Linked DNA regions of Homo sapiens: region 2 is reported to be linked to region 1. The links are microRNA targets in miRTarBase. Many come from high-throughput screens and were not tested one by one. Region 1 holds a microRNA gene; the other region holds the end of a gene's coding sequence.

Region 1 (9,803 bases):
GCAAGTGTTTGTAGTACTTAAACTTATTGAAATTATTATTGTAAACAGGCCCAGGATGTTTTGGTGCAGGAGATGGAAGTGGTTAAACAAGGAATGAGCCATGGAGAGCTCTCAAGTGAAGCTTATAACCAGGTGTGGGAAGAATGCTACAGTCAAGTTTTATATCTTCCTGGGCAGAGCCGCTACACACGGGCCAATCTGGCTAGTAAAAAGGACAGAATTGAATCACTTGAAAAGAGGCTCGAGGTTGGTATCCTTTTAAAATTTTAATTTTAAATGTACTTTGATTGAGATAATGAACTAAATAATGCCACTGGAGACAATGTCAGAAAAACACACCTGAGGTGCTTATTGCCTTTTTAGTTGTTGGAGAAAACTACACTTAAGTGTTGGATCTTCTTGGCCTTGTTCATTGTTTTTTTTTGTTTGTTTTGTTTTTGTTTTTTTTTTAAAGAATTGTTGGCCTTCATGACTAAAGAGTGCCCTGCAAGTTGACCAGAGGTCAATCAGAACCTTTAGATGTGGGAGCAAGGAGCCAAGAAGCCAATACTAGTCACTCAGAACAGGCAGGTCATTGCTAGCATAGCCTGTTTTCTCTGAAGAGGAATCTCAGCAGTAACGAGGAGTTTTCTTTTTATAACAAAGAGAGTACATTTACAAAACTTAAATACAATTCTGTTCATCCTTGGATTACTGTGAGTTTGAGTTAGGGAGGGCAGAGCTGGATTATCTAGTTAGTGGCTTCCATGATTTTTCATGTCTGTGAAAATGTTGAAAACATACTAGATGCAGTTTCAGGACATGTGGTTTCTTAATATAGTTTGCATATTTTGAATTCCAGAATCTGTGTAGGCATTTTGCCAATGGCATGTAAATTGTGGTTCACAGACCACCAGGCTGCCTTGTGCATTCTTTTTTTTTTTTTTTGAGACCTAGTCTCAGTCTGTTGCCAGGCTGCAGTGCAGTGGTGCAATCTTGGCTCACTCCAACCTCTACCTCCTGGTTTCAAGCGATTCTCCTGCCTCAGCCTCCCTAGTAGCTGGGACTACAGGCACGCCCCACCACGCCCAGTTAATTTTTGTATTTTTAGTAGAGACAGAGTTTCACCATGTTGGCCAGGATGGTCTTGATCTCTTGACCTCGTGATCCACCCATCTCAGCCTCCCAAAGTGCTGGGATTACAGGCGTGAGCCACCATGCCCGGCTATGCCTTGTGCATTTTTAATGGTAATCTTTAGGGGCATTTCTAAGGCCAAGGTGGGATGGGAGAGAAGGGGTACTTCAGGCAGTCATATACAGAAAATCGTCTTGGTTTCCTCTTTTATGTGATTACCAGTTTCTCTTTACAAAAAGTGCATTTGAAAATATTTTTATTTAGGGTTAAAGCCAGAAGTAGTAAAATCACTTGGGGTGGTTGGGGCTGTATGGGGCTGAGGAAATGAGCAGGAAAAAGCAGTATCTTTTAATTTGAGTTATTCTGAGTTTTAATTTAACCATTAAGATCACATATATATAGGTAGCTGATGGTTAATGCCTGTGAACCTCTTTTTTTCTCAGTGAGAAATGACTGGTTCTGAAGTAATTCTCATCTTGGGTAAAATCTTAGTTCAGTGCTGCTAATTATTTGTATTACCAACTTCCAGCAGGGTGTGCTGTTGCTCTGTGTTGTGGTTCAGTGTTAAAGCCAGGGAAAATAGAACATCAGTGGTTAAATTGTAAGTTACATTTTTTTGTTGTGTAGGCTTCATTTCTTATAAATGGTAGTTAGCAGTGTAATTGTGATCTAATATCAGCATCATCACTGATTGAAAAGCTATTTGGAAAGCTTCTTTGTATTATTTATATATAAATACTTAGGTTTCTTACTTAGTATGAAAATCTTCTCATTTGAGGTGGGTAAACTCTTTTTGCCGCAAATGGCAAGAACATTTTGTGCTTTTTTAAATGGTAGAAAATTTTTTTCTCCCTAAATCTCATTTACTTTGTTGAGGTACTAACTTTCATGACAGCAAATAAATGTGTCACACAGTGAGTGGTGCCATAAAGTACAGTAATTTTTATTTCTGTGTTGAATTGGTCTTATGAATTTTAAAGGGAAAAATACAGAAAGAGCCACTCCTGTTCTTTTGGAGATTTATTTGGGTCGTTTATGAGCAACCATTAAAAACATGTGGTTCTCTTTGTTCAGTTCAGTACCAGGAACTGAAATCTTCCGTTGAACTATTTTTGTTGAAGGATTGGTGATTTTGGAGAATATTCATAAAGCAGTCTGAAGTCATTTTTCTTTTCTTGACTCTTGGATAACTTACTTTATTGTTTACCCAGCTAGTTACTTTTAAAGAATACTTAATCAAGTCCTTTAATTTGGTAAACTGTGCTTATTTCAAATGAAAGTTCATGAAATCTTTTAAAAAAAGAAAAGCAGCTCAAAGACTTGAATAAACAAACCCCCATTTTATTTGTATCCATCACTAATTCAGAACTAGGTTTCTTTTAGCTTGTTTTAGTTTTTGAAGACACAGTTCTATTGGTTTGAAATACATAAATATTTTATTTCAATTGTGGTAATTCTTTCATTTCAGTTGATTGCTAAATTATAAACATTATTCAAAGTTTGTTGTGGGGAAGGAACTCCAGTTATATTGTATAAACTAAATGCTATACTTAAATTATCCTTTCCACTCTTAGGTTCAGGAGATAAGCCCTTCTCTGTAAGCACTGTATGCCATGGCTGCCAGTGTGTTTGATTTTTGCTGCCATGAACTTTGGAACCGTGAATCTAAATTATGGCCCTATCACTGCCTATCAAGCAAGATGAAGTCCAGCTTTGTCGTGGCTGGTGTCTCCTGAATGGATTAAAAAAAAAAAATGCCCTGAGGTTTATATTGGAGGTAGTCTTTGAGCCATTCATTACTCATGATTAATATTTGAAACTTAGCACTTAAGTGAAAATCCTTAAGATACTCATTTAAAACTAATAGAACCATCTCAGATTTTATGTAGAATGTGGTAGAGGATGTGTGTGTGCAAGGAGTTTGTTAAATAAATAGAATCAGAATGCAGTTACAGGTCAGAAATAAGTGGAAAAGACTTCTGAATTGTAACCAAGTCCATGTATTTTATTCTGCTTTGGAGGCAGAATTGAGTTTAGAACCTTGCCAGACTTTTGTGTGTAAAATAAGACAGCAAGAGCAAACACAGCAATGACAGTTAATATAAGGAAAGGAAAAGTTATGAGAGCATACCATGCTGTGTCCATTTTTACATGGTGGCAAAAAGCCCAGTGTATTTTAATAGCTTTAAAGACACTAAGATACATTGCAGGGGAGTAAAGTGATTGCTATTTATAGTGGTATCCCAAATTAATAAGAAAAACTTTATTTCTTTTCAGTGTCATGTTTTTTTAAAAGGGCGGGATGGCTATAATTCAGTGTAGGAAACATTTTCACAAATGGTTAAAAATAAAAGAGCTTTAGTACTTTTATTTATTCACACATTCAGTAATTATTACTGCCTATCTACCACGTACTGGATACTGTTCTAGGTCCTGGGGATAACAGCAAGGAACAAGGCAGACAAGTTCTCTGTGTTTGTGGGCTTCAGTTACCTGGAAAATGCTTAATGTGTGGAGAACCTCGTTTTCTGATGATGCCAGATAAATGAGTCATTACTGTATTTGGGAAGTGCAAATAGAATTTTAAGTGTTCTAATTTGTTTCTACTTTAAGTGGAAATAGGAAATCATCTGAAGACATAATTATTTTGAGTGAAATAATTTCCAGTGGGTGCAAAAGTGAAATGAGAAGTCTGAATTTAGGCATGCCGTTAAATTTAATAGTATTTGAAATAGTATCTAAACTGCTGTGTTGAGGAAGTTTGGCTGAAAAGTGGATTTTGTCACGTTAGCTGTAAAAATGGAAAGGCTTTCCTTAGAGATAGAAAATAGGTCCAGAAGTAATACTACTTCTCCCTGTAATTTACTGGCACAGTCAACTGTAGTCAAGAAATATTATATAACATAGACTTCTTAGAAGTAAAGTAACTTAAAGAACACAGATAACACACTTAAAATCCTTCTCAGTGTACTTGTAGCTCTTATGAGGACCCCTGACTTGTCTGAAGGTTATATTTCTGCAAAATTGGCTGCACAGTAGATCTCATTTTCTCAGTGATTTTCATTATAAAGTCAGATATTTTTACACAGGAAAAAATTTCCTTAATACTTTAAAGAGGGAAAACTTAGGGCAAGGATTTAGTTAGTAGACAGTTCTGGGTAGAGTGCTATATGTTGTCAGATATCAGCAGGTTTATGCTTATGTTGCCTTGTGTAGAGGTGGGGGAAGTGACTTGTGGTACAGGAGAGGAATTCACAGTACTTTGGAATACTCTCTCTTTCCCAAATTCTGTTCTTTGCTATGACCCTTATAGGCACTGACAGATTTCGTAGTTGTCTCTGGTAAGAACTTTATGAGCTGGAACAGACATCCTGATACAACCAGGTTGCTTCTGTTATGCCTCAACATGAATTGAATTTGTTTTATGCAGTTTACGTATTTCACTTCCTAATGTATGCAGATGTACAGTGCTCTTGTATTGCTTTGTTCATGTATTACTGTCCTTATAAAGGTTTTTAGTAAGGTTTTGCCTTCCTGGTTAGCATGCTTTTCAGGGATGCAATCTGATGGTTGCTAACTCATAGATGCAAACAATAATTACTTTCTTGGACCTGCGTCTCATCAGAGTAGAGAAGGTTCACTGATAAAAATGCTGGTAATTGGTATAGAGATTAAAGGAGAATCACTCATAGACTCCTGTTGTTTGCAAATGTTTTGGTGATTGAACCACATCTTGACTATTATATGGGATCATATTGCTGATTGATGGACTGGGAAGTGGAGCTCCCATTGACTGCCTGTTTATTTTGGGTATCCTTAAACCTGTTTTTCCAGTGGTATAAGGTTATATTCTGGGCCCCCAAGCAAGAGTTTCAGTGAGGGGTGCTCTTAATGTTTCTGAACCTCACTGTAACGGACTTTTACTGAAGACAGTATTGGAGACCCAAGGATAATGTGTTTATTTTGGAATTACTTAAGCTTAGTAACCTTAACAAACTTAGCTTGAAAGTAACAGTTACACTTTCATAAGTCCCATACAGCTCCCTTTTGTAATGACCCGAGGAAACACTTATGGTTCCACTGATTCATCTCCTGGGGACCATCAGTTTTCCATTGGTCTCTGGCCAGTCTTTTTTAGACAGTTTCTCTTCTATGCATTTAAAAAAATAACATTTCTAGGCGTCTTTCTATAAATAATACCTGTGCTTTGTAGAAGTTTTAAAAGAAGTAGAAAACATAAGAAAAGGAACCTACTATCCAGACATAATCACCTTAAACATTGTGGTGTATATATGCACCCCGCCCCCCCTGCCCCCACATACTCCCATATATCTTTTTTTTTTTTTTAAATGTTTGGATGAAGGTGTTTAAAACTAAACTGGGATCATATTCTACATTTTTCATTTAATAGTTGTAAATATGATTAAACACTAGTTATATTCCACCCTACTTCTAAAAAGGTGGTAAGTGGAACCTTTTTTTCTGTATAATTTTTTTGAGAGATATTTGTTTTCTTATAGTTTTATAGCTTGTTAATAAAAGAATTTAGAATTTTAAAATACAAACTGAGGAAAGTAAAAGCTTTTCTCAGGTGTCAAAATTCTTATAAGTGGGTACATGTAGGTGAGAGTCTAAATCAGGGTAAGAATGATGGGCAGAATTGCTAATTAAGGTCTTATTTCTTGTTTACATGTGTCTAGAATAATTTATTTTTCAGGGAGCTGTCTGGTGAAATTTAAGCCATTCATTTCCACAGCTTAAATTTTTTCAGGCATGTTTGCATTTCAGGGGGCTGAGCCAAGGAGGGGGACAGTCAGTTTATTAGCAGTGGTGTGACCAGTGTATTGGACTTTCAAATAGGGCACAACTGCATGGCATCGTCCCCTGGTGGCTGTGGCCTAGGGCAAGCCACAAAGCCACTCAGTGATGATGCCAGCAGTTGTGCCCTACTTAACCTCTCTGGGTCTCACATTTCCTTATCTGTAAAATTGGGTGAGTAATAGTTTTTGTTTTTTTTTTTTGAGATGGAATTTTGTTCCTGTTGCCCAGGCTGAGTGCAATGGCACGATCTTGGCTCGCTGCAACCTCTGCCTCCAGGGTTCAAGCAATTCTCTTGCCTCAGCCTCCCAAGTAGCTGAGATTACAGGTGCCTGCCACCACGCTCGGCTAATTTTTGTATTTTAGTAGAGACGGGTTTCACCATGGGTCAGGCTGGTCTTGAACTCCTGACCTCAAGTGATCCACCCACCTTGGCCTCCCAAAGTGCTGGGATTACAGGTGTGAGCCACCGTGCCCAGCCGAGTAATTGTTTTTATTTGATGGAAGCATGAGTTTGAGATAATATAAGATTAAATGAGATACTGTATGATTAGCAAATAGCAGGTGTTAGTAAATGGGAATTCTCCTCCCATGTGTCTTCAAGTCTATATCACCCTTAGAGTTACCTAAATTGGATTATACTTGGTTTGATACTATGAGGTATTAGGAACTAACCTCACTTTAAACAATCGGGTGGCTAAGTTTTTATATTCTGTAAATTTTGAGGAATGTCTGAAGTTTTAGACATGGGCTGATTTTAGGAGAGAGATTGTTGTACTGAGTGAAGCTTAAAACTCAGATTTTGGTTAGCGTAAATAGATTTTACATCGTGGATTTTAATCTAACATTTCATGTATACATTTTGGTGTGTTGAAATAGTTGACATATTTGTAAATTTTAATGTCTCATTATATTTCACTACATTGATGTTTCATGATTTGTGGTGTATGGTCTTGAGAAAGTAGCCTTTAGAGTAGATACAATATTGAATTTGACTTTTAAAAAATCTTATAAGAATTTTCAAATGTACCCCAGAGTATACTGGTATAATAAATCCTCATGTATTCTCACCCAGCTATGACAGTCATCAATCATAGCCACTCTTGTTTCCCCTGTTATCCCCCCTTCCACTATTATTTTGAAGCAAATTTTAGATACCGTATTATGAAATAGAATTACGGTGCGTGAAATTTGTCAGCTTGGCCTTCCTACCGATTTGTATGTGGATATATTCTTAATTTCCTGCTTTGAATTGAAGTTTACCCTTTCATATTTGATCAAGTCAGCTTTAATTGTATCAAGTGTCGGTCTACTTTAAATTCCTATCAGTGATAGTGAACTTCATTTTATTTAAGACTATTAGAAATTTTTTGTCAGTACATATTTAAAGCACAGTGTGGTGGCTTCTAAAGTAAGGTGTCCATCAGGGCAGTTGCTAGTGCTTGTTTTAAAAAATTAATTTAGAAATCTGACTGGTTAAATCTGAGTCTGATTTTCCCTTTTTCTTTGAATTTTAGGAAATAAAGTTTTATACTCTCTTGTACCTCAGTGTTGTTTCTGTGTGTGGATGGGTGTTGGGAGGAGCTGGGCTGATTTAAGCTAGTCCTGTCCCTGTATGCATGTACATTTCATGCTTGAGGTTTATTGGCTTGAAAAAGACCAGAAACTGTAGGTTAGGATTTTTCCTCTTAAAGCATATTGAGCAGTCATAGGTTGAGCATTTTACAAAGCATGCAGATACCCTCCTTTGTGTTTTAATAATCAAATGACAGGCGTAAGATAACTAAGTTCAACTTGAATATTAAAAGCTGTAGTCCATTTCTTCTTTATATGTTTAATGACTATATAGTTATTTGGCTAAATTAATTTTTTTCTGTGCTTAAGTTAATTTTTGTACAATTTATGTCCATATTTGCTTGGAACCTTAGCGCAATATTTGAGCCAGAAGACTTGCAAAGCTTGAGCTAAATGAAATAAAATTGTTGGCATTAAAGGAAAGCTAACAACTTTGAAGTTTTAAAATCTCTGATGGTTTGAGTATAAGAAATGACTCCATTGGATGAGGTGAGGTAATTCCAAGATACAGGGTACTGATAATACTAAACGTACCTTGATGACTAATTAAGCAGTTTCTGAGTATAGGTATTATGCTGTAAAACCAAACTGGAAATGGACTATCCATGGAGCATAGTGTATAGCTGAGTTATCAATGAAAATGTTAATTCGTATGATTAATTTTTAAAAAGCATTATATGTATTAATTTGAAATTCTTTGCTGTTAAGGTTTTGGAATGTGTGTTTGAATCCAAATGTGATTGGAGTATGTAATAATGGGTATTCTTAGAACATGCTGAATTGTTTTACTTTTTTGGAGACAGGGTCTTTCTCTGTTGACCAGGCTGGAGTGCAGTGGCGCGATCATGGCTCACTGCTGCCTCCAACCTCTCAGGCTTGGGTGATTCCCGCCTCAGTCTCCCAAGTAGCTGGAACCACAGGCATGTGCCACTATGTCTGGCTAATTTTTGTATTTTTTGAGAGACAGTGTTTCACTCTATTGTCCAGGTTGGTCTCGAACTCCTGGGCTCAAGCGATCCACCTGCCTTGGCCTCCCAAAGTGCTAGGATTACAGGTGTGAACCACTGTTGCCTGGCTGAACATGTTAAATTATAGAAGAAGGAACTTGAATGTAACTTGATGGATTTAGTTGTTCATATCTTATTGGAAATGAGGACTTTTTGGTAGATATAGTTGAGAAAACAACTGATACCTAGCTTGTGTAATGACTCTGGCTGAAACAGAGTTTGACATCCTAATTGCCTGTTAGAATCATTTGGGAGTTTTTAAGGACACAAAGATCTGAGACCATTTAAATCAGAGTCTCTGGAGTTAGGGCACTGGTGCTGGTAGATTTTAAAAACTCCACTGGCAATTCTGAAGTTTAGCTGTGGTTGAAAACCACTGGCGTAAAAAGACATACTCCAGAAATATTTGAAGTGGAAGAGAGTGAGTACAAATTATTGTCTTCTTTCCTTGATGGTGTTGTAAAATTTATGTGGTGGAAGTTTTGTCTTTTTTTTTTTTTTTTTTTTTTAAACTCTAACTCCATCCCACTACTGCCTTTCTAGAACTTAGAAAGTACTGCTTTTGATTTCTGGGGAAAAGTATTTTTGCATTTTGTATCCAGAAGAATTGAAGATGAGGAATTTTTTTTTCTCCTGTGGAGGTAATGTTTCTACTCCTTGTATACCTTATTTTTATAATATCCTTACTGAGATATAAATTACATACCATAAAGTTAAGACAATTTAAAGTGTATAGTTCAGTGGCTTTTAGTAAATTGACATAGTTGTGCAACCATTATTGGAACATTTACATCACCTCAGAAAGAGATTCTGTATCAGCAGTTACTCCTCATTCCCCCCAACCTGCTCACCCCTAGGAAACCATTAATCTACTTTTTGTATCAATAGATTTGCCTATTTTGGATATTTCACATAAGTGGAATCATGTAATATGTGGTCTTTTGTGATGGGCTTCTTTTACTTAACATAATGTTTTCAAAGTTCATCCATGTAGTAGTATATATTAGTATTTGTTTTTATGGCTGAGTACCATTCCATTGTGTGGATAATACCACATTTTATTTATCCATTTATCAGTTGATGGATATTTGGGTTGCTTCTACTTTTACCTATTATGAATAATGTTGCTATGAACATTCGTGTACAGGTTTTCGTGTGGACATGTTTTCATTTCTCTTGGGAAATACTGGGAGTGGAATTACTTAGATACTTCCTTCACCTCATTTGAACTTCAGGGTTAGAAAATCTTCCCATAGAGTTGGGAAGCACCGCGAGTCCATGTTCTAACG
Region 2 (9,803 bases), not on the chromosome of region 1:
CTGAGCTCTGCAGGCCTCTGAACTGGAAACCCTGGTCTGGGGCGCAGAGCAGGGTCTCTGAAGGCAGCCAGAGCCGAGTGGGGATGTTACCTCTCCTTCCCTGGCTGTGAGGTGCTGAGGTGCGGGGAGTGTTGTGGAGGGAGGAGTAAGGGGTGGTGGCAGCAGTTGTGTTGTCAGTGCTCCCATCCTAACAGCAGGACCTTTGAGTGGCATCTCCCTGTCATGTTGAGCTGCGGTGCAGGGGAACTGGGATGGGCTCTGCTGTCCTCATGCTTCTCCCACGCCCAGGGTAGTGATAGGAGGAGTCACTGGGGCAGGTTCTTGAGGGGAAGGCGAAACGTGGTTTGTGACTCTCCACTTTTGACGAGATGCAGCGTCCCTCTTTGTTGGCCAGGCCATCTGGTTGTAGCCCTCAAGGCGTCCACCACATGGTTTGTGTGGCATTCGTGGGCAGGTCAGGCTTGCAGGGTGAAGACAGGCCCGTTTCACTGTGACGTAAAGTGCAGAGTGGCAGGTGTGTGGGCAGTCGGGTGAGGGCTCTATGGACAGGGAGGGAACTCCAGGTCCAGGAGATCATCCGCATGGGCTTAGCCCATGTGAAAGTCCTGGAGCAGCATTCCCCGAATCTAGTCCCCACAATGTTGAGACATTGGCAGGTGTTCCTTGAGGATTTTGTGGGTAGATACTTGAGGGACACCCTGGATCCAAAAAAGCTCAAAACAGCTGTTTCTCACGGACACCTCCGCTACCCAGTATCCGAATGTGAATCGTGACTCTTGAGATGATGAACTCATGGGCAGGCTTTGGAGAATTCCAAGCCAAGCCATGATATGACTGGAAATTTTAGCCAAATATACACATAGACACAATTAATAGCGTAGACCTCCATCTCACAGTGTGTGGCGTTTCTCAAACCTGTTTGGCCCCAGAATCATTATTCAGGGCACACCTTGGACTCTGATGTTTCCCGAGAAGCCAGTCTCTGTCTCTTCCCCTGTTTGTGCGCATGTTCCTAAGTGCTGGGCTCTGTGGAGATGGGCGCTGCGTACGTGCCCTGAGGCAGCATGCTCACGCCATGCTGTTGAAAGGACGGGCCACAGCCCAGTGACAGGAGCCCCTTGGAGTCAGAAATCCAGAGTGTTAGCCTCACCCCAATCAGAATTTGCACCTTTAATAAAATCCTGGGCAACAGATGGCACTTGGGAGTGAGTAGCAGAGAAAGGGTGCAGTTAGTATTTGTGAAACGCTGCCCGTCGCGAGTAATGCAAACGTGTTCACCTTCAGAAAGAGCAGATCAGCGTTTAGCATGAGATTTTCCCGAGAGCCCTCCACTCAGAACGTGAGTATGTTTCTCAGCAGGTCCTCGTCATCTGGAAGGATGGGCTGAGGCATTTGTGGATGAAAGGGTCTGGTGGTAGGGCTAGCATGAAGGGGGCGGGGGTGGAGCTGGGTGGCCCTGGGATGAAACGGGTGGGAGCTGCTGATGGACATACAGGGGAAGGAGAATTACTCTTTGCTCTGCTTTTGAAAACAAATTTTAATTTGTCTGACATTTCCCATAATCAAAGCATAAAATTTCATTTACGCCATAGCTCTATTCAGAATTTTCCAGACTTCTTGCATTCACAGTGTCATGCAGTTCATTAAGGGATATTTCTGCAGGGTCTGCTGTGTGCAAACAATGGCCCCTGTCCTCATGAGGCTTCTACTCTAGAGCAGGACGCAGACAATAAGCGCTGAAAACGGCACATTCTACGTATTTGCTCATGGGACAAGATCCCGGTGCCGAGGCCCTCCCGTCCTCCGTCTCCTCAGCTCTGTGCTGCCTCACTCACTCTGTCATGGCCACCACCTTGGTCGTGCTTTTCAGTCAAAGCCTCTTCCTGTCTCAGGGAACATGCCTGTTGCTTCTTTAAAAAGGAACGTACTCCCCATGTGTCCTCATGTCTCTGACGGGAACGTGCTCCCCACATGTCCTCAGGACTGATGGGAACGTGCCCTCACCACATGTCCTTGGGATTCTGACGGGATCGTGCCCTCCACCTGTCCTCATTTCTCTGACGGGAACGTGCCCCCAGCTCTCCTCATGTCTCTGATGGGAACGTGCCCCCAGCTGTCCTCATGTCTATGACGGGAACGTGTCCCCCACCTGTCCTCATGTCTATGATGGGAACGTGTCCCCCACCTGTCCTCATGTCTGTGATGGGAACGTGCCCCCCACCTGTCCTCATGTCTCTTGACGGGAACGTGTCCCCCACCTGTCCTCATGTCTATGACAGGAACGTGTCCCCCACCTGTCCTCATGTCTGTGACGGGAACGTGTCCCCCACCTGTCCTCATGTCTATGATGGGAATGTGTCCCCCACCTGTCCTCATGTCTATGATGGAAACGTGTCCCCCACGTATCCTCGGGTTTTACCCCACCTCCCGCTCAGGTCCCAGTCCTTGGAGCACCCTCTCTGGCCTCCTTTTCCCGGCACTCTCTGTCCCCTCACTCTGCATCTGTTTCTGCAGGCTGCCCCCAGTGCCTGTGTCTGCTGCATACAGTCTGTCTACCTGTTGGGTGTCTTCCCCCATAGGTCTCATGGCGGGCGGGGGGACCAGCACCCTCACCCCAGCCATCAGATGTGCCAGGCACATCATAGGCTCTCTGCGAGCACTTATCTAAAGAGTGTGCGGGCAGACGACAGGTGATTGTGATTCTGCACAGAGCCCTGGGCTGCCATCCCTAGCTTAGCTTCCTGCAGCGGGAGTCGATAGGAGCTTCTCGTCCTGTTTCAGGACCCGCCCTCCACTGAAGGGCCAGCAGGTCGCGGTGACTTGTTCTTCCTGTCTCCTCTTCCTGCAGGTTGTGGATTCCCAGCTGGTGTGCATGATGAACGAAAACAGCATTGATTACATTTCTCGGTTCAATGACCTGGCCCAAGAGCTGTCCATCGCTGAGCCTGGCCGCCGAGAAGCTCTGTTTGATGGTGGTGGAGGCGGCCCCGCTGTCAGTGACCTGTCCCAGTGACCACACGTCCTGGTGGCGGATGAAGCCCTCTTCGAGCTAGAGAAAAATAGATAAGCCCAGCAGCCCCAGAAGATGGTCTGAACAGAGGCATCTCCGCACCCAAGACTGTGCAACGGGCAGGAACGTGGTCACAGAGCTGCTTCCCCACGAGCAGCAGGCAACGGCGTCCAAGGAGACTAGGATGAGTTCTTGGCAAGGGCCAGCGTTAGAAATCACTGTGGTACTAGAGCCGTTCTTCACCACGCCTGGGCCCATGTTAGGGTCTGCATAATGATCCCATTTCAGCCTGTGCTCTGCCTCGATTGTTGTGTTGGACATTCCGGTGGCATTTCCTTCTGAGACAAGGGAGTATGTGTGCCTTGGTGTAGTTGCTGTGCACTAGGAGCTGTGATCTCCCTCTCTGCAGGGAGGCCCCAGCCCCTGCTGCTTGCTTTCTGCCAAACCTGTGCTATGCATCAGCTGTGCCCTCTGTGGACTGTAACGGGCAGGACAGTTGGGTGTGGCCTGGGCTCATGCCTGGTGGTGTCACATCCCAAGGCAGCAAGAGCATGGATACCGATCACAGGGCTGCTGCGGAGTCGTGGGGCCCTGGGCTGGTGCCTCCCCTCCCTAGAGGTTTTGTTCGTACTCTTAACAGGGAGTGGGGGCAGGAAGAGTCCTGTACTATGCAGGTTGTGTGGACTTTACATGGGACCCTGCTAAGCTGGTTGAAAATGTTTTTCTTGTGTTTTAAGAATTAGGAGACATGGAAGAGGAAGAACAAAGTCCCCTCTGTAGTTGGTTTCCTTCCTGTGTCCCTTTGCAAGCTTCCAGGCGATCTAAGGTGTCATTTCTCCCTCCTGGGGTGACCCTTAGGCGCTAATATGATTACAGCGAAGACTTTCCTGATAAGTTCTCAAACTCGATGTGTGACTGTTTGGCACTTGAGACAAACCTGCCTTTGCAGGGAAAGTGTCTCTCACGGGCATTGGTGTGGGCGTGCCTGACATACGTGTTCAGTCCCTTGCATACCTTTGCCTTGAGACTTCTGTGTCTCCTTCCCATTTGGGACACCCAGGTGAGGGCCCAGACATCTGGATGTGGTCAGACCTCACCAAATATATGCCTTCGTGGTGGTCTCCCTCCTTGCGCCCTCTTGGGTGGCCAGCGTTCCTACTGCAGACGGCCCAACATCCAGTCTTTCCCCAGGACAGAGCTAACAAGGGCCCCTTTGCCTTCTCATCCTCAGGAGTTCCAGGCACATGAGTCACCGTCCATCCACATCCAGTGTGGCCTGGAGCTGCTACAGAGGTGTTGGGCAGGCCATGCCTGTGCCGCCATCTCTCCCTTCCTGCCTCATTTCATCCCCCGCAGCAGCCGGGATTGATTGTGCTTTCCTAACCCCCTTGGACCTACTCTCCCTCCTCCCCACCATTCCTCTTCCCCCACATGTGTGGCACGCTGCAGCCCTCAAGGCCAGCCCTGGCCCCTCCACTGCTTCTCTCCCCATCCACAATGGAGAAGGTGAAAAGAGGAGGGAAAGGCCTTTGGTGTGGACAAGCATGTGGACGCCCTCCGTCCTGCAGTCTTGCCAGCCCACCACAGCCACTGTAGACCACAGGCAGGCCGTGTACTGCACCACTGGGAGGACGTGGAGAGGACAGTGAACTTCCAGGCAAGAGCTTCCTTCTTTTGTCTCACGAGTTTTTCTTAGAGCTCTTGCCTGAGCTGGCTTCCCTCCTTCAGACATTGACATGAGATCTTAAGCAAACAGTCCCAAACCTCTTAGGGGTGAAAAAAGAAACATGCCACTTGATTAGGAGAGAGACAGCAGTGTTTGAACTACAGCATCTTTACACTAGCTTGTGTTTTGTGCTACGTATACCAGCTTCCAAAATTAGCATCTCATTGAGCCAGAGAAGACAAGGAGATCTCCCTCTGGGCATCTGGCTTTGCTGCGTCTCTAGAGGGTTAGGATACCAGGCCGAGTTCAGGCCACTGCTAGCTTTCTCATACTCCCACAGGCTAGACCAGAGATGCCAAGTCCCAACAGCACTGAGCTGTGTGCACTGTGCCAGGGACAGGAGGGTTTGTGAACTGCCTGTCAGGGTACCTGTTAGCCCCTGACAACTCAGTGGGGTGAAGTTTTGGAGGTCAGAGTCTGCTTTCGTAGGCTCTTTAGACAGCACCTACCACTTGGTTCTCCAGCGTAGACTCCTGGGAGCAGCCAACTGCAGCCATTGCCATCCAGTGGGGAGATGGGTTAGGGAGGAGGACGGGCTGACTCCTCTCCTGTAATAAAGCTGACAAGAGTTCTAGAGGATTCTGCTTCTCTAGTAACTAGACAGGTGATACGCATTTGCTTGCCACATTAAGGGAAAATGGTGTCATTTGTTGCAGAAAAACAATGGATACATTTTCTTCTGGCCTAAATGAATATTTATGTGCAAACATAGGCAACTGTTAAAGGCTGGAATTTTCAAAAGATCCAAACAGAGACTTCCTGCATCTTCTGCCTTTCCAACAGAAGCGGTGATCGTCTAAGTATGAGCCTGTGGCTTCCTTTGTGCATTTGAGCATGCTGTAATTAAGATGAGATCAGTTTCTTAGAAAAAGCTTTCCTGAATCCCTCTGACGTTGCCTGGGATCTTTCTGTTGATTCGTCTTTTCTGGAGATTGGGACAGAGCATCTGTGGTCCAGGGAAGTTAGTCCTCTGGCCTCAATTCTGTTGTGGATGTGCAGTGATAAGCGGGCATTGCGTGCCTCGGGGGATGCCTAGTTCGTGGCTTCCTGGCTGTTTTGTCCTTCTGTGTCTTGTAGCTGTAGGGTGCCAGCTCAGGGAGTGGGGTGTTGGCGGCGTTTCCGCGGTTGGCCTCCTTGCTTTGCCGCACCTCCAGGTTCTGGGCATGAGAGGCCGTGGCCTCATTTCTGGTGGATAACCTTTTTAGTTTAATAGCATCTTTAATTAGATCACAGCATTGAATTCAAAATTTCTTCTGCAAAGAAAGTTGTGGGGCATAAGACACCGGGAATGAGGGAGGAGGAAGACAGTTGTGTTTTCTCTTTAAACCTTGAGCTCTAGCCGATGCATTTGTCAGGAAATACAGCACTTTGTCTTAAGAAAACAAGGAAGGAGGCCGGGCGCAGTGGCTCACGCCTGTAATCCCAGCACTTTGGGAGGCCGAGGCGGGCGGATCACCTGAGGTGGGGAGTATGAGACCACCCTGACTAACATGGAGAGACCCTGTCTCTACTAAAAGTACAGAATTAGCCGGGCGTGGTGGCGCATGCCCATAATCCCAGCTACTGAGGAGACTTGAGGTAGGAGAATCACTTGAACCTCAGCGGCGGAGGTTGCAGTGAGTCGAGATCGCGCCAGTGCACTCCAGCCTGGGCAAGAAGAGCGAAACTGGGTCTCAAGTTAAAAAAAGAAAGCAAGGAAAGAGTAATTTACAACGAAGGAAAAAAACCCACAGCACACCCTTCGCGGCTGTCAGCGCTCTCCTGATGTCACAGTGGCTGCGTGTCCTTGGGGTGGGTGAGGTGTGGGGAGCCCAGCCCCTGGCCCTGCCTCCCGCGCCCCGCTCCCCTTCTCTCTCTTACTCGGTTAAGCCATAGCGAGGCCTCCGCTCGTTTCAGATATGAATTTGTTTTATAGATTATAAATATGCATATACAGTGTATGTATAAAGCAGAATGCCTGCCTTTCCTGGTTATTTTTTGTACCATATTGTAAATTATATTATTTATTCTTTACCAATTTTGGGAATAAAAGGTGTTTTGGTTATTTAATATAATAAGAGCTGTTAAACTTCTGTTTAAATTTCCAGTTCAACTTGTAAATGTTTTTATTGTGCATAAATACATACTAATGTTGATCTAAGGACTGTCGTTTGTGCCTGTTCTTCAGGGCCGCGCGCCCATGCCCGCAGTCCCTGGTCGGGCAGGTGCGGCCCAGGTGCGGCCCCGCGGTCGGCTCGCGGGCTCCCGCAGACCGGGCTTCCTCCCGAGGGCGCGGCCGTCCCAGGGCCCGCCCGGCCCGCCGCCCAATGCGAGCTCCCACCTCCGCGAGCGGCGTCGCCTTCCCCAATCGGCTGCGGGCGCGGCGCCGACCGTTCAAAGCCTAAGTCGTCGGGGGTGGGCGTGAGGGGCGGTGGCCGCGCTGAGATAGGCTGCGGAGGGATGATTGGCGTCTTGGCGCCCAATGGGCGCTGGCGGGCGGCCTTGAGTACCTGCGCTGGGCGGGCGGGAACGGCGCGCGGCGAGCTGAGGGTGGCGGCGGTCGACATGTTCCAGGTCCCGGATAGCGAGGGCGGCCGCGCCGGCTCCAGGTGCGGCGCGGGGCACACGGGAGGCGGGCGGATAGCGCGACCACGTGGCGGGAGCGGGCCAGCCCAGGGCGTCCACCAGCCGTGTGGGGTTGGGGTGGGGTTGGGGGGCAGGGCGACCTCACAGAGGCCCTCGGGGCCGCCGCCCGCCTTTCTGCGCCGCCGCCAGACCGAGGCCCGAAGCCCGAGGGGCCGCTCGCTGAGGCCCGGGCTGTGGAGAGCTGCCCGCGACCGAGGCCGAGGGCGGGGAGGGGCGCCCGGGCTCTGGGAACAAAGCTGTGTGGAGGGCGGGCTGCGCTCCCTCGCGCCTGGGCGCCCGCGTTCCGTGTGGTGCGTTCCGTGGGGGGTTTCCTGGGGGCGGGGTGTGCCCGTGGGTGCGGCCCATTTTGTCTGTGGGATGCGTGTCCATGTTCCCGGGGGGGTGTCCCTAAGGGGTGTGCGGCGATGTGTTCGTGGGGGGTGTCTGGCCATGCCCCCGCTCCTGTGCGTGTGGCCGTGTGCCCGTGTCCCTGGTGTGTGTGTGGCCTGTGCCCTGCCCATGGCCGCGCTTCCACTAGTTCATGTGAGTCCACTTCCTTTGGAAAGTGCCAGGGCGTCTGGGGAAGAGTCAGTTCTATCTCCTGGGAAGGTGGATGGCGCTCCTGGGCTTCGCTGTAGGAAGAAGTGGATTGGGACGAAGATATCCTGACTCAGCTTTAATAGCCAGGAACACTGAGCACACTTTTCTTATGTTTTTGAACTTTTAAAGCACTCTTTGGGTATTGGGACTCGCATGAATTAGAGGGACAGAGCTTACAAGGTCTTTCGTGCCACTTGAGCAGTAAACTTGCATTGTGAAGTTTGGGTCTTCAGATGCCTGAGGTTTTCTGTATGATGAGCCCCTCTGTGGCACAGCCTCGCCAGAGAAGTAGAAGAGAATATGTGTGCCATGACTGTTAAGACCAATACTATATTGCTTCTCAGCCTTTTGGCTATGATCAAGTGAAGACAAATACTATATTGAATAAATACTAAGTAAAAGAATTGCTCCAACTTGCTAAAAATAAAAACCCTTTAGATTGGCCGGGCGTGGTGGCTCACACCTGTAATCACGGCACTTTGGGAGGCTGAGGTGGGCGAGTCACGTGAGGTCAAGAGTTCGAGACCAGCCTGGCCAACATGGTGAAACCCCCGTCTCTACTAAAAATGCAAAAATTAGCCAGGCGTGGTGGTGTGTGCCTGTAGTCCCAGCTACTTGGAGAGGCTGAGACAGGAGAATCACTTGAACCCAGAGGCAGAGGTGGCAGCGAGCCAAGATAATGCCACTGCACTCCAGCCTGTACGACAGAGCAAGACTCCGTCTCAAAAAAAAAAAAAACCCTTTAGATTTGAGGGAGTTAGGTCAGTATTCAGTAATACTTGTAACCAAATAATTACCCGTGGCAGGGTGCAGTGACTCAACGGCTGTAATCCCGGCACTTGGGGAGGCCGAGGCAGGTGGACCACGAGATCAGGAGATCGAGACCATCCTGGCCAACACGGTGAAACCCCGTCTCTACTAAAAATACGAAAAAATTAGCCGGGTGTGGGGTGGCGGGTGCCTGTAGTCCCAGTTCCTTGAGAGGCTGAGGCAGGAGAATGGTGTGAACCCGGGAGGCGGAGCTTGCAGTGAGCCGAGATCACACCACTGCACTCCAGCCTGGATGACAGAGCAAGACTCCGTCTCAAAGAAACAGCCCTTCATCCATGGAACAGTGATTATTATGCCTAGGTCTGCACCGATGTGGGACCAGGAGTTTAAACTAGTGCTCAGAGCGAATCCGGTTTCTGGTTCCTGGTGGCCAGAGTTTTGCACCACCCACATCAGTGGGGGGAGGGACTGCATCCCCAGCCCTGTCCCAGTTGTGTGCATTTAGTACGTTTCCTTTTTGTTTGTGCTGCCTGGCACTGGCTGCCCGGTAAATGATGGTGTTTATTATCACCCTGAGCGACGCCGATGTTTTTATATTGACTTTCACGCTCCAGAAGTTAGCTGCACAGGGCCGCACTAAAGTCATACTCACACTACCCTGGGGGACTGGTTTCTGGACAAGGTGTTGAGAAAGGGAGAAAACTCTTCCTTTTAGGATGGTGAGGAAGGAAAGCCGGTCTGAACTGGATGATGAGGTATCACTGGAAGCTTCTGCTTGGGGTCCACCAGACGCTGCACATTTGCCACTCATCTGAACGGGGTCGAGTCGCAGGGCGGGCGCCTTGTAAGCGTCACATTTAGTTTTGCTGTGAAGCGAGTCAGGTGGTGGCTGTAAGATTACCTAGCCAGGTTTTCCTCTCCTGAGACCTCACATCTCTCCTTTCCTTGCTGAGGGATTGTCTTGTGTTAAAGGGGTTTCGTAAAAGCGTTATGCTTTAGCCGCGATTAACCTGAGGTCTTCCTTCAAGCTGGAACATTTCTATTTGTAAGGAATTTAATCCAAGTTTATTTCTCACTGCTTCTCTCTAAGCC

Evidence for each region. Region 1 holds the annotated microRNA hsa-miR-4642 (AUGGCAUCGUCCCCUGGUGGCU, at 5,986-6,007, shown strand). A microRNA usually pairs through its seed, bases 2 to 8, with sites in the 3' UTR of a target mRNA and lowers its output. Matches are read on the target gene's strand: a 7mer-m8 pairs with bases 2 to 8, a 7mer-A1 pairs with bases 2 to 7 and ends in A, and an 8mer does both.
Region 2: the mRNA of CRAMP1 is a reported target of hsa-miR-4642. Seed matches in the 3' UTR shown: 8mer at 5,028-5,035.

The regions. Positions count from the first base shown.
Region 1 is chr6:44,429,665-44,439,467 of GRCh38, forward strand. It overlaps MIR4642 (microRNA 4642), which reads left to right and starts at 5,977; the gene lies at 5,977-6,058. CDC5L (cell division cycle 5 like) reads left to right here. Exons shown (of 16, transcript NM_001253.4): 14 at 49-246.
Region 2 is chr16:1,671,033-1,680,835 of GRCh38, forward strand. CRAMP1 (cramped chromatin regulator 1) reads left to right here. Exons shown (of 21, transcript NM_020825.4): 21 at 2,849-6,876. The coding sequence ends at 3,013. It overlaps JPT2 (Jupiter microtubule associated homolog 2), which reads left to right and starts at 7,247. Exons shown (of 5, transcript NM_144570.3): 1 at 7,247-7,324. The coding sequence starts at 7,281. RefSeq lists silencers at 6,874-7,273, 7,304-7,663 and an enhancer at 7,104-7,739.